Linked DNA regions of Homo sapiens. The protein of the gene in region 5 interacts with the protein of the main gene of each other region in a biochemical or structural test. Each region holds a gene or a part of one and is shown on either strand. Other genes may lie near its edges. The genes, in order: MAP3K21, DSC2, ITGA5, CDCP1, CLK1, PKD1L1 and TMPO.

What was found.
Region 1: of the proteins of CLK1 (region 5) and MAP3K21, one has a biochemical effect on the other in vitro, tested with the Homo sapiens proteins (one large-scale study listed by BioGRID).
Region 2: of the proteins of CLK1 (region 5) and DSC2, one has a biochemical effect on the other in vitro, tested with the Homo sapiens proteins (one large-scale study listed by BioGRID).
Region 3: of the proteins of CLK1 (region 5) and ITGA5, one has a biochemical effect on the other in vitro, tested with the Homo sapiens proteins (one large-scale study listed by BioGRID).
Region 4: of the proteins of CLK1 (region 5) and CDCP1, one has a biochemical effect on the other in vitro, tested with the Homo sapiens proteins (one large-scale study listed by BioGRID).
Region 6: of the proteins of CLK1 (region 5) and PKD1L1, one has a biochemical effect on the other in vitro, tested with the Homo sapiens proteins (one large-scale study listed by BioGRID).
Region 7: of the proteins of CLK1 (region 5) and TMPO, one has a biochemical effect on the other in vitro, tested with the Homo sapiens proteins (one large-scale study listed by BioGRID).

Annotation. Positions count from the first base shown.
Region 1 is NC_000001.11:233,330,724-233,334,223, reverse strand, and holds part of MAP3K21 (mitogen-activated protein kinase kinase kinase 21), read right to left. Parts: intron 1-3,500. UniProt on the Homo sapiens protein: Negative regulator of TLR4 signaling. Does not activate JNK1/MAPK8 pathway, p38/MAPK14, nor ERK2/MAPK1 pathways.
Region 2 is NC_000018.10:31,058,340-31,061,380, forward strand, and holds the end of DSC2 (desmocollin-2 isoform Dsc2a preproprotein), read right to left. Parts: 3' UTR 501-3,041; downstream 1-500. UniProt on the Homo sapiens protein: A component of desmosome cell-cell junctions which are required for positive regulation of cellular adhesion.
Region 3 is NC_000012.12:54,405,767-54,409,266, forward strand, and holds part of ITGA5 (integrin alpha-5 precursor), read right to left. Parts: coding exon 3,466-3,500; intron 3,189-3,465; coding exon 3,127-3,188; intron 3,036-3,126; coding exon 2,990-3,035; intron 2,470-2,989; coding exon 2,344-2,469; intron 2,111-2,343; coding exon 2,066-2,110; intron 1,927-2,065; coding exon 1,883-1,926; intron 1,741-1,882; exon of another isoform or gene 1,631-1,740; intron 161-1,630; coding exon 104-160; intron 1-103.
Region 4 is NC_000003.12:45,087,379-45,090,878, forward strand, and holds part of CDCP1 (CUB domain-containing protein 1 isoform 1 precursor), read right to left. Parts: intron 1,764-3,500; coding exon 1,676-1,763; intron 1-1,675. UniProt on the Homo sapiens protein: May be involved in cell adhesion and cell matrix association. May play a role in the regulation of anchorage versus migration or proliferation versus differentiation via its phosphorylation.
Region 5 is NC_000002.12:200,858,159-200,861,658, forward strand, and holds part of CLK1 (dual specificity protein kinase CLK1), read right to left. Parts: intron 3,309-3,500; coding exon 3,080-3,308; exon of another isoform or gene 2,058-3,079; coding exon 1,967-2,057; exon of another isoform or gene 1,589-1,966; coding exon 1,522-1,588; intron 1-1,521. UniProt on the Homo sapiens protein: Dual specificity kinase acting on both serine/threonine and tyrosine-containing substrates.
Region 6 is NC_000007.14:47,945,641-47,949,823, forward strand, and holds the start of PKD1L1 (polycystin-1-like protein 1), read right to left. Parts: upstream 2,801-4,183; coding exon 2,757-2,800; intron 1-2,756. UniProt on the Homo sapiens protein: Component of a calcium-permeant ion channel formed by PKD1L2 and PKD1L1 in primary cilia, where it controls cilium calcium concentration, without affecting cytoplasmic calcium concentration, and regulates sonic hedgehog/SHH signaling and GLI2 transcription.
Region 7 is NC_000012.12:98,539,590-98,543,089, reverse strand, and holds part of TMPO (thymopoietin), read right to left. Parts: intron 1-3,500. UniProt on the Homo sapiens protein: May help direct the assembly of the nuclear lamina and thereby help maintain the structural organization of the nuclear envelope. Possible receptor for attachment of lamin filaments to the inner nuclear membrane.

The DNA.
Region 1 (3,500 bases), on a different chromosome or scaffold from region 5:
TTGAGACCAGCCTGGGCTACACAGCAAGACCTTGTATTAAAAAAAAAAAAAAAAAAAAAGTCCAGGCACGGTGGCTCACACCTGTAATCCCAGTACTTTGGGCGGCCGAGGCGGACGGATCACGAGGTCAGGAGATCAAGACCATCCTGGCTAACACGGTGAAACCCCATCTCTACTAAAAATACAAAAAAAAATTAGCTGGGCGTGGTGGCGGGCGCCTGTAGTCCCAGCTACTCGGGAGGCTGAGGCAGGAGAATGGCGTGAACCCGGGAGACGGAGCTTGCAGTGAGCCAAGATCGTGCCACTGCACTCCAGCCTGGGGACAGAGCGAGACTCCGTCTCAAAAAAACAAAAACACACACAAAAAAGCCAATGCTGTTTCCCTTAGCTGCACTATTCTGGTAGGTTTAGCACTTAAATGCTAGTGTGAAAAAGCAGGGCTTACAAATGACCTTCTTAAATGGGTAGAGCAGATAAATACTTTCCTCTGTCTCCTTTACCCTGCTTTGATATACTTGATAATGATTACAAAACTGATCAAATACGGATACTTTGCATAATTCAGAACTAACTAGCTATACCCCTCACAACTACAAAAAAATAAGACATTGCCTATTTTTTTTTTTAATTTTAATATTTGTAGTCCAGGGTCTCACCATGTTCCCCAAGCTGGTCTCAAACTCCTGGGCTCAAGCGATCCTCCCACCTTGGCCTCCCAAAGTGCCAGGATGATAGATAGGTATGAGCCACTACACCTGGCCAGCTACTTACTTTTTAATACGCAAACATGAAAATGATGGGGGAAGATGTGGTGACTCTTTTGTGATTGCCATTCTTCTAAAAGTCTAATCTTTCACTAACTTTGTTTCAAAAGCAGATGTAGATCTCAGTTACCATTGGGACATCTGGACTGACTTCTCTGTGCCTCCTGGAATAGGAAGCAGCTATAGCATGAAGCTACATGTCCTGAGTATAAGAACAGAAGAGAGAAGGAACTTATGTCTTACAACTGATAATAGTGAAATTAGTAGCTTCCCCAAATCACTCTGATGAGCTATTTAAACATCTTATCTGGAGATTACATTTTCCATAATTTTCTCAGATAGTTCTTTTATTTACACAGTACTAATGAAAAAAAGCTAAAACAAAATTTATATTCCTTTTGCAGTTTGTCATAGTAAGAGCTCCAAATGGCATTTCATAATAAATACAACTATTGTAGTTGTAAATAATACTGTAGATAGATAATAATTATTCCTAAAAGACTAAAAAAATTGAGATAATAAATGCTTAATCACTGACATAAAAAGTATAAAAGTAAGTAGCTACCATAATTTGTGGCTCAGTTCCCCATGGAAAGTTTATTTCCTCTTAAGAAAAAAAAAATAGAACACAATAAGCAACATCAAAAAAGAAAAAGGAAACCATACATGATGCCACATAATCTTACTTCAATCTTGCACTTCTGCAATTTGATAAATAAAACTCTTAAACAAAATTCTAATATTTCAAACCATCCTTGGGAATTCTTATATTGCAGTATTTTATCTTCACTGCCCCCTGGTAACCTCCCTGCAAAATACTTCCATTGCTACCACTCTGGGCAGAGTCGGTGCCTCCTCTCATATAGACAACCTTGAAAGCCATCACTTGAGCCCACTGCAGTCCGTTCTTCACAGAAGCCAGCACCATCACTCCAAGTGAAACCTCCATGTGCACAGCAGAGGGAGGCCTGCCAGGCCTGCCCCACGCATGCCTCTCCTCACCAGCCTTCTCCTTAGGCCTCCAATATGGAAGGCTCATTTTTGCTTCCTCTTTCCTTTGCCTGGGTCTTTGCTTGACGAATTCGTGGTCCTTCCTCGGAGTGCCTTCCCTGGAGAGCCCCTGTGTGAAACAGCACCCCCATCCTCCACTCTACCACTCTCCACCCCTTACCATGCTTAATTTTCTTGATGGCATTTTCTAATCTATTTGTTATTACGTGACTGCCATCTATCTTCCCCGTTAGACTAAGCTCTATGATGGCAGATTTGTTGTCATTGATGTCTGGCTTGCCAGTGTCCCTGAGGCCCAGAAGTGACTGGCACAGGGTGGGCATTCCAACAGTGTTGAATGAGTTCCAGCTCTCCACAATGTTTCTCTCTTCTGTAAATGCGCATAACACTGGCGATTTTCACAGTAACTCAAAGTTGCCTTGTATTGTTCTCTGGGGGGTGCCTATAGGTAGACTTATATAAAGTATTTTCTACTTATTTTGCATCCAGAAGGGAGTTACAGGGCCTAGTATTTATTTAAAACATAAATGTTGCTTAAAGCTTGCTAACTTGGCACAACTTTCAACCTGTTGCTACCTGTTAGAAAAGGGACAAAGTTGTTTATATCATTCACAACATATCAGCTATTATCTAGACACAGACATTCCCTCACAAGATATGATAAAACTTGAGAAGATCTACTAGAAAAGATAAAAGAAAATCTGTCAAGAGTAACATATTCTCTAGACAAATTTAAATATTTGTTTAAAACAGTAATTTCCACTGAATTGGCTCCAAGTAGTCTTCTATTAGCTCTTTGGTACATGAGTACACTTCGGAGTGAAAATAAAATTCAATATTGATTTTTAAAACCTTGTTTACGTTATCACTAACTCACTACCACCATTAGCAAATATCCAATAAAATCAAACAAAACATACTGCAATAGAGTATCTGTTATACTTAAAAGTCTAAACAAGAAGTCATAGCTTCATATATCAGCAGAGAATTTCAAATCTGCATTTATTCATTGAACAAATAAAATCAGACATTCAGGATAAAGACCATGTATGAGGCACCATGGTTTGCACATTCTAGACCCCAGTCAAACTCTTCACTTTATAGTAATTAAATAACTATGATAATGGTCATATTGTAACAAATACTTGGCCAGGCTAGTGACTAGCTAATTAAGTCTTTTATAAGAGTGCAACAATTTAAAGCAAAGGGAATCCTGCCTGACAATTATAGAAATTAAAATACTCCGGGAAGTTTGGCAATTTATTCTGAGACTGAAAAGTCTTTCAAAAACTAAGTAGCAGCATGTAATCACCATCAAATTATGTAATATCTACTGAATACACAGTAGTCTATACTCCACTATACAAGTTTTTCTGGTGTCAGTAAAAACTGTTCGGCCATAGTTATTATTCCAGGGTCATGTTATTTCTTTTTACCATTTAATAATATTAGGAGTTCTTTAAACATTTATATTTTATAAAAGTTTATAAAACTTTATAAAACTTTATAAAAATTTACTATTTGCAATAATTGCTATGGATTGTTGATTGATCCATAAATCCTATGGATTAACCCATAGGAATGGATAAACATCCTTTAAAACATGCTTTAAAAACACTAGCAAACATTCTCTACCCTGTGTTGTATGAACTTTGAAAAGTATTGCAACCAAACAAAACTAAGTGCAGTGTAAAAGTAATAGCTATAGGCCCTTTAACTTTTTAG
Region 2 (3,041 bases), on a different chromosome or scaffold from region 5:
ATTGAAGTTTGAGGCAGTGGAAAGAAAAGATCTTCCTCTGAAAACTCTGGACATTTGGTGGAGTCACACCTCAGCAAAGGACTTAAGTTAGCCCTAAAGTCTCCACCAAACCTGCCCTAAGAAAACTTAAGAAGAAACCTCAAAAGGACTCAATTTATTTGTTTAATAAATAACTTAAACTGCCGCCGGAACAAGGCTCAACAAGTAACAAAATTGATTTTGTTTATTATAATAAGGTAAAATTCCCAATGTCCAGCACTAACTTGTTTACAATTTTAAAACAAGCAAGCTTTTGACAGCTTTCTTCCCTGAATGATAACAGAAACTCACAGTACACCTGGCTCCCCACAGGAGGACATTTGCCATTGATTCCAAAGGAATTCTGTAATGATGTAAATGTGAAGGGATTGGGACATCTCTTGCTAAAAAAGGTCACACACACACACACACACACACACACACACGCACACGTAATATTTGTAAGAACATTCCATTACAGATTTTTTGTGGCACTTTTTAATAGTACGTCTCCGTGAACATATTATATCACTTCTGGGACTACATATTTTTGAGAGCAGAGGCCATATCTTACATACAGTAGATACCAAATAAATTTTAACACCGAACATTTACATAGAACTATGTTCTAGCAATTTTTTAAAGCAGATGAGGAAACTGAAGACTAGGGAGGTTCAGGTTACACAGATGGTTTGTGGTAGAGCCCAGATCTGAACCTTGCCTGTTGGGCCCCAAGGGACCCAAAGTTCAGGCTCTATCCCAGACCGCTCTGTTAGGTTGCATGGAGAATGCGATGCATTGTGCAAAGATTAACTGTGATTGTGTCTACTACAGGAGAAATAAGGAGCAGCTTAGCTTGCTAAAAAGTGAACACATTTAATTGGTTTAAACTTGCATTCATTATGCAAACTTTGCTTGAAATATTTCATTTGACAATTCTAGTAAATTAATACCTATTCTTAGTCTAGATAGTGCATAACAAATTACTGACGACAAATCCTAAGTGCGTTAAAGTAAAATTTTAAGACCAAAAGCACATGAATGCACTCAGTTATGATAATGTGAGATGATACAGTATTTTCTTTTTGCTTTCAATTTAATCATTTACTGTAAATATAATATGTTCAGTGAAAACTTTATTTATTAAAGCTAAGATGAAAAGGCTTTTCTTCACAGGCCTGTAAGCTCCCCAAATTCTAAAGCCTGTGAGTTTTTCTTGCTCTGTATTTCATTTACATGAACTTTTCCCTCAATGTTATAAATTATAAATGCTTGTGGTAAAATGAAAACATGGAAACACACAATGAATAAATATTTCATTTACCGAGGATTTATCACTCAATATCTTAGTGTATTACAGATAGTCTCATATTTATTTAAATGTGAGATTATAATAATTTGGAAACCTATCCTAGTTTTAAAATACTACTATAGTTTATGTCTTTTCCCATTTAATTAAAGTTTTCAAAATAAAATGATTGCATGATATTCCATCATCATATCACAATAGTGATAGCTGCTGGTTATTGATATACTGATGAGCCAAGCAGTAAGCTAGGATCTTTATGTGAATTATATAATTTATTCCTAATTTGTCCTTATTTGATATGCTAGAAATTTGAGGTTTCTGTGATTTCCCAAGGTAACACAGCAAGAACAAAGCTGAGATTTGGATCCACGTCTTTCTGACTGCGAAGTCTGTGTGTGATCATTGTTTCCATTGTCCTCAATTATGGTACATTGTATCACAGTAATGGATCATACATCATTTAATTACTTCCCTGTCATGGAACATTTAGTTTATTTTCAGTTATTCATATATTTAATGCCACTGAGACAAACATCCTTGCATGTGAGTAGAATCTTTACACTATTCTCTTACTTCTTTTGGATAAATCCCTTTTACTTGATTTCATTGGTAATTCTGCATCACATCTTGTGTATATTGACACCCTCTGCTCCTTTCACCTCTGGCTTTCTGAGCCTCTCATTCCCTATTGGTTAACTCATGTCCTTGGTGCCTGGGAGTTTTCCAATTGGCCCTGTTCCCAGGGGAACACTCCTTAAGCTGAAAAGTCTCGTCTCTACCCTCATCTCCCATCCCTGATTCACAGGCCCCTCTGAAGCTCCTGGCCGCCACAGTCAGTGAGCATTACCTGTTACCCCACCTGACACAGGTCCCCACACAACAGCACAGTGATGCCAAACAGTTGCTGCCTTCTGGACAGTCACTTGTTCCACCTGCTGTTGACCTTTCTAGTTCTATTTATCTCTGGAGATTTGGCAATTCTGATTTTTAAAAATATATGCAACTTACTTTGCATACATCTTCTTGACTAGCAGCATTTATGTGGCAAAACTTGTTAATTTTTATTAAATGTTTTCTGTGTGGCTTTGTTCTGCATTCCTACCTTAAGACTATTTCTCTCGTTCACATGCATGTAGAAAGTAGAAACCACAGGGAACAATGTACATTCTGAAATGCTTAATTTGCAGACATTGTGAAATTTTACTCATCAATGTGTTTCAACTCTTTGGTACATTTCTAGCATTTTGCTTAATATGTTTTATATGAAAAGGCAAATTTTAAATACTTAAGTTTCATAAACCACCAAATAATCAATAAACCCAGTTACTAAAACCCTAACGATTGTCAAACTTTAGAGTAAGAAAAAATGACCTAGAAAATGTATTGAAAAGTGAAGGCTTCTATACTTTTCCCCTACTAGCCTGTTACTCCTGTGACTGATTCATGAGGGATCTCTATTTTCAGCAACACCAGGGTGATTCTGATGCTGATGGTCAGTGAAACACACTCTAAAAATTATACAAGCGAATATATCAGCAAGTTTGCCTTCATATTTGTTAACTGAAAAGCAGTGAGTGTTCTGCTCTGTCCTCTCCCTTGAATCCTAACAAAATAAGTAAACAGAAAAGATGTGGCTAGCAGAAACTCCACAATTCTAACCTCTCAGCTATGCCCAGATTTTCTGTAGGGATACAAAGGTACAGTCACAAAGGGA
Region 3 (3,500 bases), on a different chromosome or scaffold from region 5:
ACAGGATCAAGAGGGGCTGGGAAGTTGGGCTGACATTATTAGGTCAGGGCTGGGGCTTCGTTGACAGAGGCCAAGCTGGGGTGGGGTTGAGGGGTATCCTTACCTGTTCCCCTGAGAAGTTGTAGAGGGATCGAATGTCTGAGCCATTAAGGATGGTGACCTGGGAGATGAAGAGATAGGCCCATTGGTCCTGGACTCCCAGAATATCCCATGGTTAAAGAACAGATGTGTACAGGACACCCAGGGGCAGGCATTCCTTAGAGACGCAGACCACTGTCCCTAGCTCCCTCTTCAGCTTTGCCCTCATATTCCCACCTCTATGCCAGGTAGTTCCACCCTATGTCTGCTTCACTATTTTTCTCCCTATCAATCACCAACCACTGACAGATTTTGTATTTATCTGTTCGTTGTCCCTCTCTACCCACTAGAATGTAAGATCAATAGGGGCAGGAACTTGATTTTGTTCTTTGCTTTCTCCTCAGAACCTAAAGTCATGCTTGGTGAGTAGTAGGCACTCAATAATAATTATGACTGAATGTGTGCTGGTGCCTCAAACCCATCACGTTCAAAACCTAAGTCATCCTCATCCTCCAGTCCCCCGAACCACAAACACCATTTCTCCCCTATATTCCCTTAGTGACTGGCCCCACCAGGCCTCTTGAATCCTGGTGTGAGCCCTTTCCCAGGACTGCTGGACAGATGTCTTGACAATGTCCCTGCCTCCAGCTCTCCCAGCAGATCTAGGAGGCTACCTCTGGCTTGGAAATCCAGTGGCCCCCTGCAGTCACTGCCCAAAGTCTCAACTTCTTGGCTGGTCCTCCAAAGCTCTGGAGAATCTGGCCCTAACCTATCTGTTTTTGCTCAACCTTTCCATATTCTACTCATCCTCAATCAGCTCATGAGTCTGCTAAGTTGGGCTGAAATTGTTTCCTTTTCTTCCACCTCATTCATGCTCCTGCACAGGATGCCCTCCTGCCTCATCTCTGCTGAACCTTCATAGAACCTTCTCTCATCTGTCCTCTTCCTTTTTAAAAATTTAAAATTTTTATTTCCTGACTCCCCAAACTTGTTACCATCCTTTTCCTAGAAAGGAGATTATTCTTTCCCCTAAACTGCTATGCCACTGTATCCACTTTGCTGAAGTTTACCAAAATGCAGAAAGAATGCTGATTTTGGATTAAGAGAGACCTGATTTTAAACCTACTTACTAACTGGGTGATCTTAAGCAACTTACTTGGTCTCTTAGAACCTCAGTGTTCTCATATGCAAAATACAGATGATAATATCTACCCCATAGGCTTGTTGTGAAGAATAGAAATCATGAATAGATAGTGCCTGATGCACTGAGTAGAGAATGAATAGTTGCTCCACTTTAGATCATAATTGTATGTGTGTCTTATCTAACATACTTGATTAGAAGCATCTTATAAGATGGGGTATGATACCTTATTCATCTTATCTCTTACCTTGCCTTAATAAATGTTGTTAATTGAATGAAATCCGATGGCACTCTTATCTGTATCTTTTAAAAAGCACTTGTCCTGGTCTAATAATAACATCTGCCAGTTGTACATTGCCTAACAATTCACTGAGTACTTTCACATGCATTTTCTCATTTCATCCTTGCCAGAGCCTCGTGAGGTCAGAACGATTGTTATCCCAGTATACAGAGAAGAAGAAGGCTCAGAGAGGTTCAGCAGGAAGCAGAGTATGAATAAAGAGCAGAATGATTCTGCCAGAGTAAGTGCCAGAACTTGAATGCCAGTCTGCCTCCAGAGCCCATGTTCTGATCCACCTTTTTGAGCCCTTGCAAACTGCCATGCACGGTTCTTTGTGATTAGGCAGGGGAGGAGAGGAAGTGAGGGGTCAGGCTGGGTCTTACATAGCCGTAAGTGAGGTTCCCTTTGGGCACACCAGCAACAAAGTCTGCAAAGAGAAGAGAAAGTTGTGACCTAAGGGTGGGGAAAGGGAAGCAGATAATGGTAAGTGGCCAAGTTCATGGGCTCTCTGGCCCTGTGCCTCTAACCATCCCCCTCCCTTGGCCCCAGCCTGGGGACACACTCACCTTCTGTGTCATCACCACTGAATTCACCAACAGCCACAGAGTATCCTGGGGGACAGGGTGGGTGGATGTTAGGATTCCTGCTTTGAGGACCCCTCTGCTCTGGCCTATCCACCAATCCCTTCCCCACCCCTACTGGGCCTTCATAGTCAGCAGGCACATGACAAGTATGGCAGGGGTGCTGGGGATGCCTGAGTAGGAGAGGGGAGGCGAGGGGGTGAGTGGGGACAGGAGCACTTGAGGTTCTCCCTCTGCCATCCCTTCCCCACTTGCTTGCTCACCTAGGTAGCTGTCATCATAGATGGAACTGGCCTGGCGAGTCTGCAGCTGCCCCTGAACCAGGTTGATCAGGTACTCGGGGTAATAAGATTCTGCAATCTGCTCCTGAGTGGCAGACAGGATCTGGCCTGGAGAGAGTATGAAGAGGGAGTAGATGGAGAGGAAGTGGCAGAGGGGGCTTGGGACTCTGGGGGCTGACTGGGTAGTATTTCAGAAGTCTGGTTCAAGAAAGGGAAGCATGGGGAGGGTGGTGGCATGTAAGCTTCAGGAAAGGAAGAGGAGAATTGGGAGTAGGGTGGGAGGCTATGTGCCAGGGGACTTAAAGAATGGCAGAAACAGGCAGGGCGCGGCGGCTCATGCCTATAATCCCAGCACTTTGAGAGGCCAAGAGGGGTGGATCACGAGGTCAGGAGTCCAAGACCAGCCTGGCCAAGATGGTGAAACCCCTTCTCTACTAAAATTACAAAAATTAGCCAGGCGCGGTGGCAGGCGCCTGTAATCCCAGCTACTTGGGAGGCTGAGGCAGGAGAATCGCTTGAACCTGGGCAGCAGAGGTTGTGCCACTGCACTCCAGCCTGGGTGACAGAGTGAGACTTCGTCTCAAAAAAAAAAAAAAAAAAAAAAAAGAATGGCAGAGACAGGACTTACCTTGCCAGAAATAGCTTCCTGGTCCACCTAAAACCACACGGCCAGTCTGTGGGTGAAAGGAGGGGAGTCCAACATCTGGTCCCAATCCCCCCATGTCCACCACCCACGGCCCCTTCTCTCCCAGACCACTCTCTCACCTTGGTGAACTCGGCACTGAAGCCTCCTTGGCAGTAACCCTGTCCTGCTGCCCAGCTGAAATCTGTGAGGGGAGAAGGTGGTGAAAATGAGCCCTGCATAGATGGGTCATCCAGGAAAGAAGAGAGGGCATAGGGAAGGAGGTGGGAGAGAGAACCAGAGAAAGGGCCTTCCTGGACCAGACAGTAAGCATAAAGGCTAACGAACTGGGTTAGCCTTTATCTTAAGCAACCTAGAACCTCATGGGGGCACATGGTAGGTGCGAGTCAACCCTAAGTATGTGAGACACTTCAAGTATATGAGAAGGCAGACATGGGGCACAGGCCCCCTCTTGCCCCTACCTGAGCGGCAGGGTGCATACTCCAGAATTCGGGTG
Region 4 (3,500 bases), on a different chromosome or scaffold from region 5:
TCAGGCTTAAACTGGCGCTGTTTCAAGATGAGGCAAGTGCTGGATCTCGTTCCTTGTCCAATTCCCTCCTGATAAGGAACCTGGGGCCCAGTGTTAATGCCATGCTTCCCCAACTGGGTGGGCTATTCCGTGCACCGCAGATGGGAAAATTCCCTGAGAGAAACAGTAACATGATGTTTCCTTAAAAGCAGTCCTTTTTCCCCCATGTGTTATAGGTACAGCCACTTCTCATGGGGAAAAGACCTCCTGCAAGCCAGTCCTTCCTCATCAGCAGAGACATTTGTAGACAGTCTTGTTGTAGACTAGGAATTTCAGTTCTTTGCTCAGGTCCACAGTTAATTTTTAAAAAAGAATTTTTTGGCTGGGTGTGGTGGCTCACGCCTGTAATCTCAGCACTTTGGGAGGCCGAGGCGGGTGGATCACAAGGTCAAGAGATCGAGACCATCCTGGCCAACATGGTGAAACCCTGTGTCTACTAAAAATACAAAAAAAAATTAGCTGGGCGTGGTGGCGGGTGCCTGTAGTCCCAGCTACTCGGGAGGCTGAGGCAGGGGAATCGCTTGAACCCGGGAGGCGGAGGTTGCGGTGAGCCGAGATCGCGCCACTGCACTCCAGCCTGGCAACAGAGTGAGACTCTGTCTTAAAAAAAAAAAGAATTTTTTCAGATTGGCTTTTTGGAAGGTCAAACCATGTTAAGGAAAATAGCTCTCTTCTCTCTCCCATGACTTTAGTCAGAAATATGAGCAGAATTTATACAGTTTGGCGGCAGCACGGACTCTGTCTAAAAAGGTCAACATTTTCCTTTTATAAAATAGAAGCTCAGCCAGGTACGGTGGCTCATGCCTGTAATCCCAACATTTTGGGAAGCCAAGGTGGGTGGATCACTTGAGGTCAGGCGTTTAAGACCAATCTGGCCAATAAGGTGAAATCCCGTTTCTACAAAAAAATACAAAAAAAATTAGCTGGGCGTGGTGGTGTGTGCCTGTAGTCCCAGTTACTCGGGAGGCTGAGGAAGGAGAATCACTTCAACCCAGGAGGCGGAGGCTGCAGTGAACCGAGATTGCACCACTGGCAACAGAGCAAGACTCTGTCTCAAAAATAAATAAATAAATAAATAAAACAGAAGTTGTCCTCCTGAGGGGATGGAAAGAGAGACTGAGGCAGTTAACTGGGCCTTCCTTCCTCTGGGCCACAGGCCTGGCCTCTGTTACATACCTGGAGCCCAACAGGCAAGGATAAAGCAGTTTGCTTAAGAAACTGCAGGAGAACAAGCTGGGACAACACACATTCGTTCTCCTTAGGGTGACGGAGGGAGTGGTTTCAGAGGCACAGTCTGGCAGAGCCTACGTGAGCATTTTCTTGCCAAGATCACTCCTGCTTGATCAATCTACTGAGCAAACAGCACTCTGCTTGCAGGGGACTTGTGCTGAGGCAGCTGCACCATGAACTACATACAGGTGAAAATGTCACGTGTGTTTTATCCCCCCCTCACCCCCAGGCATGGGATTTTTTTTCTCCTGAAAGCATGACTCACACCTGGCAATATTGTTTAACATTGATCTTTGGGGGAAAAAATGGGAAGCAAGAAAACAAAGTCAATAATGAACAATCCACCCAGTCTGTGTGATCTGAGGAGGCATCAAATCAGATAAAGAGAGTAAGAGATTCCACCTACTTCTTTTTCACACAGCAAATGATGAGCCCGAGGGCAGACAGCAGTAAGACTCCACCTCCCACCGCTGCGATGAGGATGACAGTCAAGTCTGTGAGCAGAGACATAAAGAGACAGATGAAGAGGCAGCTGGGGTGAGCTCTGCAATGAACTTGAGGCATCTCCAAAAGCAGCTGCCATCTCTCCAAAGGTGGAGCGCCATACATGTGGCTCCTTGTGTGCACATGGGGCTCCTCATATCACAAAGTGTTTATTTCCTTTCCTCTTGGATCTGGGTCAGCCAATATAAGGCAACTGTGCCAGTTCTGGGCCTAACTTTTAAGAGGATGTCAGCTTGCACTTTCTCTCTGAGAGAAAGCCAGCTACTATGTAAGAAGTCTGACTATGCTGAGACCACCATGCTGTGAGAAAGCCCAAGCTAGCCATGTAGAGATTCCACCGGGGAAAAAAATCAACCCAGTGAGAACCAAAGGCCATAGACATATGTCTCCAGTTGAATTCTCCAAGCCATCCTCTCTACTTGTTCAAGGCTTCTGGTTGGGGCCCCAGATATCCTGGAGCACAGATAAGATACACTGCTGTGCCCTGTCTGAATTCCTGATCCATAAATCGTGGGTAAACAAAATAGCTATTGCCAAAGCCACCAAATTTTGGGGTAGTTTGTATATAGCAATGAACAATTGAAACAAACTGAGGGACCTACCAGATCAACTTCAAAGGCTACTCCTGGCCTACAACAGGTGTGTTCCACTGATTGCCACAGCCTGTCTTGGAGAAGAGAAGAGCAGAGGAGGGTAGGAGAAAGCAGGGAGTCAAAAGTCAGAAGTGAGGCAGCTAAAGGGAGGGTTGTTTCCTTTGTGCTGTCCTTTTCCTGCAGCTGCACAAAGGAAAAAGAAAATAAATCAGAGGGGGAACCCTGTACCAAACAGCGAATTAGAATGTCTTGCTTATTCACCAAGAAAACAAAAGGTGAGATCCAAAGGAAAGAGGAATGGAAAGAAATGACAGAAAATGAATCTAAGAGAGGAAGAAAACCCAGGATATAATCTATGAGTGTGGAGAGGTTTTCACTTGTGGCATTTGGCTCCCACCAGTTCTCTTGAGGCTAACCAGTTGTGTGGCTTGGATGGACCTTCAATCACTCTGACCCCCAGAAAGGGAAAGGGAAAAAAGCAGCCTCCACAGTCCCTTCTGATTCTGACACTGTGATGCTCGGTGCCTTCACTGAGTAAAGGGCAGACATGGCCCCACCACAGCCTGCCCTGCCACACCTGCATTCCCTTGCTTGATACCCTTTAGTGGTGCCCATGACTTTGAGGAATAAAGGCAAACTCATCATCCTGGCTCCAAGGCCTCCCACTGAGGGTATTTCATGGATTCCAACGTTTCACTGAGACTAAACAAAAAACCATGTACCTGTCAGACTTTTCAGGTCCCCATATTTTAATTCATGACACCGAATCCCATGATACTTTTATGAGGTGGCTATTATTATCTACTCTCTGTAGATGAGGAAGATCATAGGTGTGAAGAGACTTCCCCTACGTAAAAGAGAGATGAATGGTAAAGGATGCTGGTAGATTGACTAAAAAAAATCTAGGCTGGCCAAAAGAATGCAGTCGAAGGGATGGTGTGTGAGTTCCTAACCTAAAAGTATCAAAAGACCTTATATGCCTCCTCCAGTCTCTTGTGGATCTCTCTGCCTCTGCCATGAAAACAGCCCAGGCTGGAGAACAAGAGATCATGTAGAGTCAAGCCAAGTAATCTCAGTTGTCTCAGATGATCTTGGCTGAGCCTCAGCTTTTTGAAAGCACCAAGCTAAGATCAG
Region 5 (3,500 bases):
AAACTGTACTACTACTCTGACCCACTGTATTTTTTTAATTTATGGTTTAGTGTTCAGTTCTGATTCTATTACATGCTGAATGACACAAATTTCTTTCATCAAACCACCACTCACATGAGTTATTTTTTGGTATTTCAGCTAAACAACTTCTTCCTATATGGTACCTGTCACTGTCAAACATTATCTCAAATGTTCTTTTAGTCCAGGTTGCCAAAAGAGTTAGGATACAGTGGGGAAAGAGTAAAGAGCTCTAGGACCGGGAGCAGTGGCTCTCACGCCTATAATCCCAGCACTTTGGGAGGCCGAGGGTAGTAAATCACTTGAGGTCAGAAGTTCGAGACCAGCCTGACCAACATGGTGAAACCCTATTTCTACCAAAAATATGAAAATTAGCCAGGCACGGTGGTGTGTGCCTGTAATCCCAGCTTCCTGGGAGGCTGAGGCAGGAGAATTACTTGAACTCGGAAGGTGGAGGTTGCAGTGAGCCAAGATTGCACCACTGCACTCCAGCCTGGGCGACAGACCAAGACTCCATCTCAGGGAAAAGAAAAATAAACAAAAAAAGAGCTCTAGCTCTCATGTCCTTACCAATCAATAGTAGGAAGCCCCCTCAAAAATGCTTTGCCATTCAGGAAGAGGAAGAACAATAACAACAACAACAACAACAACAACAAACAGGGAACTAAAAAAAAAGAGTAACGGAAAAAATTCTATACTATCTTAAGAAATTTCATGGCTGGAGCCAAGCGCTCATGCCTGTAATCCCAGCACTTTGGGAGGCTGAGGTGGGCAGGTCACCTGAGGTCAGGAGTTCGAGACCAGCCTGGCCAACATAGTCTCTACTAATACAAACAATACAATACTAATACAAACAATAGCTGGGCATGGTGGCGCGTGTCTGTAGTTCCAGCTACTCAGGAGGCTGAGGCAGAACAATCACCTGAACCCGGGAGGCAGAGGGTGCAGTGAGCTGAGATTGCGCCACTGCACTCCACCCTGGGTGACAGAGCGAGACTCTGTCTCGAGAAAAAAAAAAATTTCAATCAGTAGTTTGATAAACATACATAATTAAACTTGGGACACCAAGTTATCTCCAGCTATGTTATCAGAATGAATTACAGCACTTCCTAAAAATATAGATTCCTAGGTAACTACCCTGAAAAGGTCTGGGGTAGGCAAACCTCTCGAGGAGGATCTTAACATAAAACCAAGGCTGAGAACCACTAATATGGTGGGGGAAAAAAATATGGCCTAACAACAGTGTCCAGTTGAACAACAAAACAATACTTTCAAAACAATATAAAGTGTGTTCTCAGCCTAAAATTAGAAATTATACATACTATTAGTAGCTGTTTAAAAAATATGAAGGGGCAAGTACCTCTTAACTGGAAGTGTCTTACATCCAAGTAAAAAAGGGTATAAAGATATGTATCTAACTCATGGTCAGACCACTTTCTAAAGCTAAATCAATTACCTGTATTGCCAACTTCCCTAAAAGTAATCCCAACATGGGAAACTTACGCTTTATGATCGATGCACTCCACAACTTTTCCAAAAGCTCCTTCACCTAAAGTATCAACAATTTCATCTAAAAGAGAGAAATAAATCTCAGTCATATCAAGAAGTGGAAACAATGTACTTATCACAATAAATGCTATCAATGTAGATTATTCTAGTTGATGCTACAAATTTCCTTATCACTAGATATTTTATTGGTCAACACCATCAAAAAACATAATTATTAGGTCTAATTTCATTAATTTGATTACTGTTCTGGAAGTTCTATATAACAAACATTACATTTCTAAAGAAAGCAAAAATACAATCCCCCCCACCAAAAGAAATGGAAAAATAAAACAAAAACAAAAAAGAGAAAGAAAAAAAGATTTCCAAATCCCTGAAAGCTTAATCTATATATAGATTATGTTATCTGAAAAGTTAATAAGTGTTGAAAAATATTCTATACATCTTGCACTTAGTACGTCTCCACTCTGACAGATCAGGTGACCCTCCTCATCATCCTCTACACTCCTGGTTCTTTTCCTTCGGTGACTCTTCTGGAAACGTCAAGTGGGCGGCACCAAGATCATCCAGCCAATCAATATACCCGAGTGAATTCAGGGCAGAATACGAAATTCATTCAGCGGGGAGATATTCAGGCATTCAGATACACGCCAGGCCACAAACGGTTGGCAGGAGCAATTTCAAATTCAGTCCCCAGAAATTCACAGGGCACATAGTTTATGTTAACAGGAGAAAAACATGGCAAGGAACAGATTTTCAGATAAGATACTCAAAGTGGCAAGGCAACAAAACATAATACAATTGTTTTTCTTAAAAAAAAAAAATGCTTAGTTGTAGCATTCACTGAAACATAATTTTTTAGTTTCTAGTGTTCTAATTTAATGTTGCAAAATCGTATGATGTAATATTTACTTGTCAAAGTAGGCGGTGGCCAAATTAAGATTTCCTACCTAATCTAAGAAAACAAATATTATAACAGTAAATAAAATTAAAGTGCTAATTTTGGGGAAAAAAAGATTTGGCATACAAGAATAACACTACGGCATTTTTAATGTCATCTGAGCTGATCTCCATACTAATATATAACCCATAACAGTTCAAATCTGTTCTGGTTTGCTTAGTGAAAGAAGGGTTAGAAAACATGACTTGTTAGAACAAAGAAGCATACCTAATCCTAAATTATACAAAAATAAAATGCCCTGTTCTACTTTTGTGATTTCAATAGATCAAAACTAATCAGGTTTCTTGAAGTACCACAAAAAACCCTTTTAGAATATTTTGTAATAATTTTCAACTAATCTAAATTAAATCAATTAACTCCCATCATTTCACTGGAATGTCAATTAGGAGCCAACCAATAATTAAATTATAGAACTAAATGTGTACTTTATTTCCGGAATTTCCTATCCAATGCACAAACACAGAAAAAATCCTGCAGGTTAAAACTGAGATGATTTCATCTTAAAACTTTCTCAAATAATCAAACACAAAAATTCAAGTTTCCCTGTTCCACATGGGATATAAAATTTCCAAAATGTTTTAAAAACGTTCATACCCCATGTGAACGACGATGTGAAGTACTGTGGTGAATCCTGTGTTTGCTTTTATAACTACTTCTTCCACTTCTACCAGAAGACTTGCTACTATGGTTCTGATACCGGCTTTCATGGTCTCTTTGGCGATGTCCAGGTTCACATCCTTGAGTGTAGTCATTTCTGTACTCATCAATGTAGCGTCGACTATGATAATCTTTCTCATTTATAGACCTGCTTTCCAAATAATGGCTAGAGAAATAAAAATTATTTTCAATGTTTTATGCTAAGACCAAATATCCTCACATTCTCTTCAAGACAGCACCTAGACTCCCCCACAAGCAGCTTAATTTTACAAACATTACAAACCATCAAAATCTCTCATTGGAAACAAACGAATGGTAGTAATCAGGTACTTATTTTAAGTGATACTAGTTTTGTCTA
Region 6 (4,183 bases), on a different chromosome or scaffold from region 5:
TTAGAGGATTTCTGCAATGATCTAGCGGGCAAATAAAATTAAGGAAAGGACGAACCTAACCTCTGTCCACCACGTGCGCCCCACAGTCCACAGCTGTGAGACTGCCCACCACTCTGGGCCCACACAAGGTTAGATAGCCCTGGCACCCACCAAGTTCCGAGACCCTCCCAGACACCCCCACAACAGGATAACTTCCAAGTGCTACACACAGAAAACACCAGCCCTGGTTCCTGGGACATAGTTGGCCCTTGAGAAGTAATTTTCTGTCTCAGAAGGTGAGAAACACATCCCCAACAGGTGTGTCCTCCACTCACAGAGGCGCCAAGGATAGTGCTGCAAAGCTAATTTTCCTTGAGATTTCAGAGGTCTTTTCAAATAAAAAAAATGGAAGGGGGAGATAATTTAAATACAAGGGAGGCTCTTTTTCCTGGTGTTGTGAGGAGGCAGGTCCCCAGGCCCTGGCACAGAATCAGCACCATTTTCACAGAGGTACCTGGCTTCCTCTTAGTTAACTGTGACTGTCGGGGAACAGGATGATACTGATGGCTCAAACACAGTCTCTGAGGCATCATGTGCCTCAAGGGAACTAGTCGAGCCATTTGTTTGAATTACATGACAGATCTCTTAGAATCCCTTAAGAGTGAGTGTTTTTCGGGGCCTGTCAGGGGCTGGGGGGCAAGGGGAGGGAGAGCATTAGGACAAATACCTACCACACAAACACACACCACACACTCACACCACACCACACTCACACCACACAAACACACCACACAGCATCACACACAATATACACACACCACACAGCACATACCCACCCACCACACACACATCGCACACACCACACACCACGCACCACACAAACACACCATACACACAAACACCACACACACACCAACACATTACACACACATCACACAGCACACACCATGTATCACACACACACCATACCCCACTCATACCATACCACACATACACCACACACTACACACAGACCACACACCACACCACCCACACACATGTCCTATACCACACACACACACACAGACACTACAGGCCTAACTCCATGAAATGAGGGCTACAGGAGAGTCAAGAAACCTCTTCTGTTTCTATGAACAAGATCAGTCACTGTCTTGCTTTAGGTGACTCAGGAAACCCCAAAAGGCTATGACTTCAGAAATGGGGCCTCGACACCAATTACAATGGCTAGTGCGTGCATGAACTAGTTGGTCTGCAAGTACAAGATGTATAAATATACAGGGGAAAAAACATCAAGTCAGCGACTTCCGCTCCTCAGCTTTTCTTTCCTTTCTAAGGGCAAAGGGGTAATTCCTTGCAATTCCCTGACTGATAAGAGTGAAGGTCAAATTGGGCCAACATCAAGGCTCTGGGAGTCTGCAGGAGCATGGGCATTTGGAATAAAAGAAACATGAGGTAACCAGAAAAAATAAGGGAAAAAATTGTAGCCAAAATCAGACAATGCTTGGCAGCAGTGAGTGACATAAGGCAAAGAAATTTCCAAGCATGAATGTGACCAACCCCGTCAACACGTGCAGCCTCATTTTCTCATCCTGGTTTGCTTTGGGTTTCTTTGATAAAATGATGGTGATGGCACAAAGACAGTAAGCTAACAAAGGCAGAAATGCTGACAGCAAGCATTCATCAAGGATACTGATTTTTATAACGACCCTCTGGAGTTTACAGATGTGACAACAGGGGTACTCAGATTTTCAGGATGAGAAATCTGGGGGTGAGGAGGTAAAGTGACCTGCAGTGGCGGGGTACCCCACTGGGCAAGATCTGCAGGCACAGGCTCCCATCATGCCAGGCCAGGGGACAGCGGTGACCCACCTGGGTCCTTACCACATCCCACAGGCAGGTCACCTTGCTGGCCTCACGCCCAGGAAAGGGGGCATGGAGGTTTGCACCATGTCACACTGCCATGAGACAGTCAACAGCAGAGCACACAGGCTGCCCAGCCTCAACAACACATGGGTGCTGGCGCGCACAGAGCATGGGGAAGAGGGTTTAGAAATAAGACCCATGGAGGCTGGGTGCGGTGGCTTATGCCTGTAATCCCAGTACTTTGGGAGGCCAAGGCGGGCAGATCACAAGGTCAGGAGATCGAGACCATCCTGGCTAACACAGTGAAACCCCGTCTCTACTAAAAATACAAAAAATTAGTCGGGCGTGGTGGTGGGCGCCTGTGGTCCCAGCTACTTGGGAGGCTGAGGCAGGATAAATGGCATGAACCCAGGAGGCAGAGCTTGCAGTGAGCCAAGATCGCACCTCTGCACTCGAGCCTGGGCAACAGAGAGAGACTCCGTCTCAAAAAAAAAGAAATAAGACCCCTGGGCCAAGACCCCATGATCTCTTCCTGTGCCAGGTTTCTCCTGGTCTCCATGCAAGGGACCTAGCAGACAAGCAGATAGCTTAACTTTGTCTACTACCAGGCAGCAGAAAGTCCTCGAACTTGGAAGGTATCCTGCATTTGCAGGAAGAGCAATCAGCACTTCTCATGGCTGAAGGCATCCGCTTGGAGGAGTCTTCTCAAAAGCCTTCAGGAAAAAACTCCATTCTCAACACCAACTCCAACCTCTGAACTGACCCCGCCGGCCAAATGCACCCTCCTGGTACAGGGCCTCCACTCGTGCCAGAGTGAGCCCACATCCTAGAGGTGATGACTTTTGAAAGAAAATTTCTGAATGCATACTTTAAAATCAAGCTTACCAAACCCTCTGAGAACAGTGATAACTCACCTTTCCTGGTCATCAGAAATGTTCTGGGCTGCCTCCTCGGCCATGTCCTGTGCAAGCTGGTCACAAGTATGACAGTCAGCAGACCAGCTTCTTCCTACATCCTCTGGAAGACAAAGAAATAGAGCTTAATGCTTCCAGCTTCTGTACTTGTGACCTCTTATCAGGACACACATCAAACACAGAGGGAAAAATCCAAACTCCAGTAACATTTTCCCAAGCAGAAACAGCTTTTGTTTTCCTAACACTGTCAGACAAATTCCTTCCTAAGAAGTGTGCTTTTGACAGACGTGGTGGCTCATGTCTGTAATCCCAGCAATTTGGGAGGCCAAGGTGGGTGGATCACTTGAGGCCAGAAGTTTGAGACCAGCCTGGCCAATATGGTGAAACCCCGTCTCTACTAAAAATACAAAAATAGCCAAGTGTGGTGGCACACATCTGTAATCCCAGTTACCCAGGAGGCTCAGGCGAGAGAATTGCTTGAACCTAGGAGGTGGAGGTTGCAGTGAGACGAGATTGCACCACTGTGCAATAGAGTGAGACTCTGCCTCAAAAACAAAATGAAACAAAACAAAACAAAACAAAAGTGTGTTTTAGGTAGGGATCTTTGTGGCTGCCTGAAACAGATCACTACTCAAGGGAGAGACTGTACATGGAAGCTGAGAGAAGTCTGAGAATAAAAAGCTGTAACTGTTGGCTGGGCGCGGTGGCTCACGCCTATAATCCCAACACTTTGGGAGGTCGAGGTGGGCGGATCACGAGGTCAGGAGCTCGAGACCAGCCTGGCCAGCATAGTGAAACCCCGTCTCTACTAAAAATACAAAAATTAGCCAGGCATGGTGGCACGCACCTGTAGTCCCAGCTACTCGGGAGGCTGAGGCAGGAGAATTGCTCGAAACCGAGAGGCGGAGGTTGCAGTGAGCCGAGATCGTGCCACCACACTCCAGCCTGGGCAACAGAGCGAGGCTCTGTCTCAAAAAAAAAAAAAAAAAAAAAAAGCTGTAACTGTCCACAACTGCACTGGGGAACAGGATACCTTCCACAAGAGCAGAAGAGCATTCCTAAGGAAGGCTGGCAAGGCACACACTAGGCGCACTCTGTCTTACGGCAGAACCTAGGAATGATCTGGTTCCGAACCTCCTGCACCTCTCCTTGTTTGCAACTGGCGGGTCAGACTGAGTTCTCTCCATTACGAAACATTTTCTCTTATATTTTTAAAGCACTTGTTAGTTGTCTTAGTTCTTTATACCAACATTTAAACCTTCAGAGATTTTAGAAAACTTAATGTTTTACTCAGAACACTAGATATTTTTTCTCTCCACTCTGAAGAGAGTGATACCAAGAAGAGTGGGAACGTTTTCAGGCACAAGCTCTTTCTCAGATGGGAACACAGACCCCTTGAACAATGATGAACCAAGCTACGGGTGTCC
Region 7 (3,500 bases), on a different chromosome or scaffold from region 5:
AAAACCCCACAAGTTACAGACATAGTCTCATAAATCATGGTTTTGTATTTATCTATATTTGGAATTGATATTATAAGAGTTTTAAGTCACAATCTGAATCTCTGGGTTCCTCATCCTATCAATTAGGAAGTATTTGCTGAATGCAAAATTATTGTCAAAAGAGAAACTTGTAAACAAATTACAGACATACACAGAGTAACTGCTTTTTAATTTTTATTTTATTTATTTTTTTGAGACAGAATCTCGCTCTGTTGCCCAGGCTGGAGTACAGTGGTGCAATCTCCACTCACCGCAACCTCCACCTGCGAGGTTCAAGTGATTCTCCTGCCTCACCCTCCTGAGTAGCTGGGATTACAGGCACGCACCAGCACACTTGGCTGATTTTTTTGTATTTTCAGTAGAGACAGGGTTTTGCCATGTTGGCCAGGCTGGTCTCCTGACCTCAGGTGATCCACCCACCTGGGCCTCCCAAAGTGCGGGGATTACAGGTGTGAGCCACTGCACCTGGCCAGAGTAAGTGGTTTTTAATAGTCAAATTACCAACTATTTGAATAGACGGAAAGGTAGTTTTATAATCTGAGATTCTCAATCCTTGTGGCACAGTACCATCAAGGAGAGCTTTAAAAAAAAAAAAAAAAGCAAATGCCCCCAACTACCATAACCAATTAAATCAGAATCTCTCCAGGTCTGGGAATAGATAATTTCTAAAGCTCCTGAGATAACTAAAAGCCATCTTGAAGGCCTATCAATTTAAGTAAAACATGACCAATATGGTTACTCGTACTAACTTTATTAAAAAACAAAACAAAACAAAAAAGCCTCATATTCCTCCATTTGAGAACAGTACTTTCAAACACTGCTGGTGGGAATGCAAAATGCTTCAACTCATATGCAGAGAAATGTAATGGTGAAATTACCTAGCAATTTTACTGGTACGCTTCCCCAAGATAAACTGGCAAAAAATATGCAGTGACACATGCAAAATGCTGCTCCATGGTTCATCCTGGCATTATTCATAGCAACATACAGCTGAAAACAACTCAAATATTCACCAAATGGAGAGTGGTTAAATAAATTACAGTACATCCATAAAATGCAACACATAAAATGCAGTTGTACAAAGCAATGAGGAAGATGGCTACGTTCCGATATGGAGTGATCTCTAGGTTTAGGTTAAAAATGGAAATGTACAAAGCAGGCTGCATTTTATGTAAAAGGGGAGCATATAAAAATCTATATATTTACTTATATTTTTAAAAAGAAACAAAATATAAATCAAAACAATAAAAATGCTTATCTGTAGATGGAAGGGAAAAGGACAGAAGCCAAAATTCTGACTCTACCTTATTTTGCCTACATAAAACTACATTATACTCTCAACACAATTAAAAAATAATAAAAGAAAAAGCAATCCTAGCATTAGAGAACAAAAAAACCTAACTATTAAGTTGGTGGCTGTATGACACAAAAAAATTCTTTCAAGTGACTTTAAGCACAGTGTTTTGACATTACATTCTAGTGGGATATGTCCTAAAGACAAGGAAAACAAAAGCCCAAATTGCATTTAACAGTCTTATTGTTAGTAGTAATACTGTATTATTTAGAAACACATATATGTTGTGATACTTACATAAGTAACAACATCATTTGAAGAACCAAGATATTCAGCATAAGATAAAAATGATACAAGTATAACATAACCCAAAATTAGCCTGTATTTATAAATTTGAAATATCACCATTAATTCATGATTTACCTAGCACTACCTACTGAAAAGACCCAGAAACAATGACAACCAGTAGGAATGAACATGTCAGCATCCAAATTGTTGCTTCCAAATAGTATTATCTATTAAAAGGATCACGGTTCCTTAGAAACATGGCTGATTCCAGGCATGACGCAGGAAGTATACATGAGCCTGGGACGTCTTACTATTCCAGAAAACAAGAAACTATCAAAGATAAATGGGGGAAGGAATTAAAAAATACAGGAACCAACTTAGTAATTCCTAATGGCTACAGATGGCACAATGTGAACATCAAAAAAGAATGATGACTGTAACTGATCATAAATTCAATACATAAAAAAAACCTCAAAATAATAGACCTAGGCAATAATCATATGACAATGGCTGTTAGAACCATTAAATGAAAGGACAATGTGGATCTTTATAACAGATGGATTAATCTTTCAAAATCTAAATCAATTACTAATTTTAGCATCGCCAGAAAGACATTCTATACCTCCTAAAACGATGTAACAGGAAGGCCGCTATATCATTTAAGTATTCTTGTGAAAGAAACTGGACATGGATCTGACCAACCCTCTGGATCTGTGCCGTCCAATATGGTAGGCCACTAGCCACATATGGTCATTGAAATTTAATTTAAATTAAAATTAAAACATAGTTTCCGCCAGGCGCAGTGGCTCACGCCTGTAATCCCAGCATTTTGGGAGGCTGAGGCGGGTGGATCACCTGAGGTCGGGAGTTCGAGACCTGCCTGACCAACACGGAGAAACCCCGTCTCTACTAAAAATACAAAATTAGCCGGGCGTGGTGGCACATGCCTGTAATCCCAGCTACTCAGGAGGCTGAGGCAGGAGAATCGCTTGAACTTGGGAGGCAGAGGTTGTGGGGAGCTGAGATCACACCAACCTTGGCAAAAAGAATGAAACTCCATCTCAAAAAACAAACAAACAAAAACAAAAACAACAACAACAACAAAGCAAAACAGAGTTTCTCAGCCTCACTAGTCACCATCGAAGTATTCAATAGCTAGTGGCTACTGTAACGGATAGCACAGGTATGAAAAATTTCTATCACAGAAAGGTCTACTGCATAGCCTCACTACAGATCTAACCCACTCTACAGAAAATGCAGCGTATAGAGAAGCTAATTAAATGACATAAAGAAGCAACCTAACAAATCCAGAATGTTGGGAAATTCTGTAATGACCTGGTTTCTTCACCAAATAAATGGAGGGAAGAGAAAAAGTTACAGTGGTAACAGCTACAGACTTGAGAGAGTAAAACAACCAAAAATCAAACCGGATATGTGGATCCTGTCTGGATCCTGATTTGAACAACATAATCATAAACGAAACATTTCTGAAACTAGAGAAATTTAAACATGAATTAGATACAAATAAATTATTAATTTTATTAGGTGTGATATTGGCATTGTCACTGGAATAGCACTTATCTTTCAGAGATATATGCTAAAATGCTGACTTTTTAATGTGTGAAACACTATGTCAAAGACTGCTTTAATATACTCCAGGAAAAAGCAAAATAAAAAAAATCAAAAGCAATTTATTGCCAGGTGCGGTAGCTCATGCCTGTAATCCCAGCAATCTGGGAGGCCAAGGCGGGTGGATCACCTGAGGTCAGGAGTTCGAGACCAGCTTGGCCAACATGGTGAAACCTGGTCTCTACTAAGAATTCAAAAACTAGCTGGGCATGGTGGCGGGAACCTGTAATCCCAGCTACTCAGGAGGCTG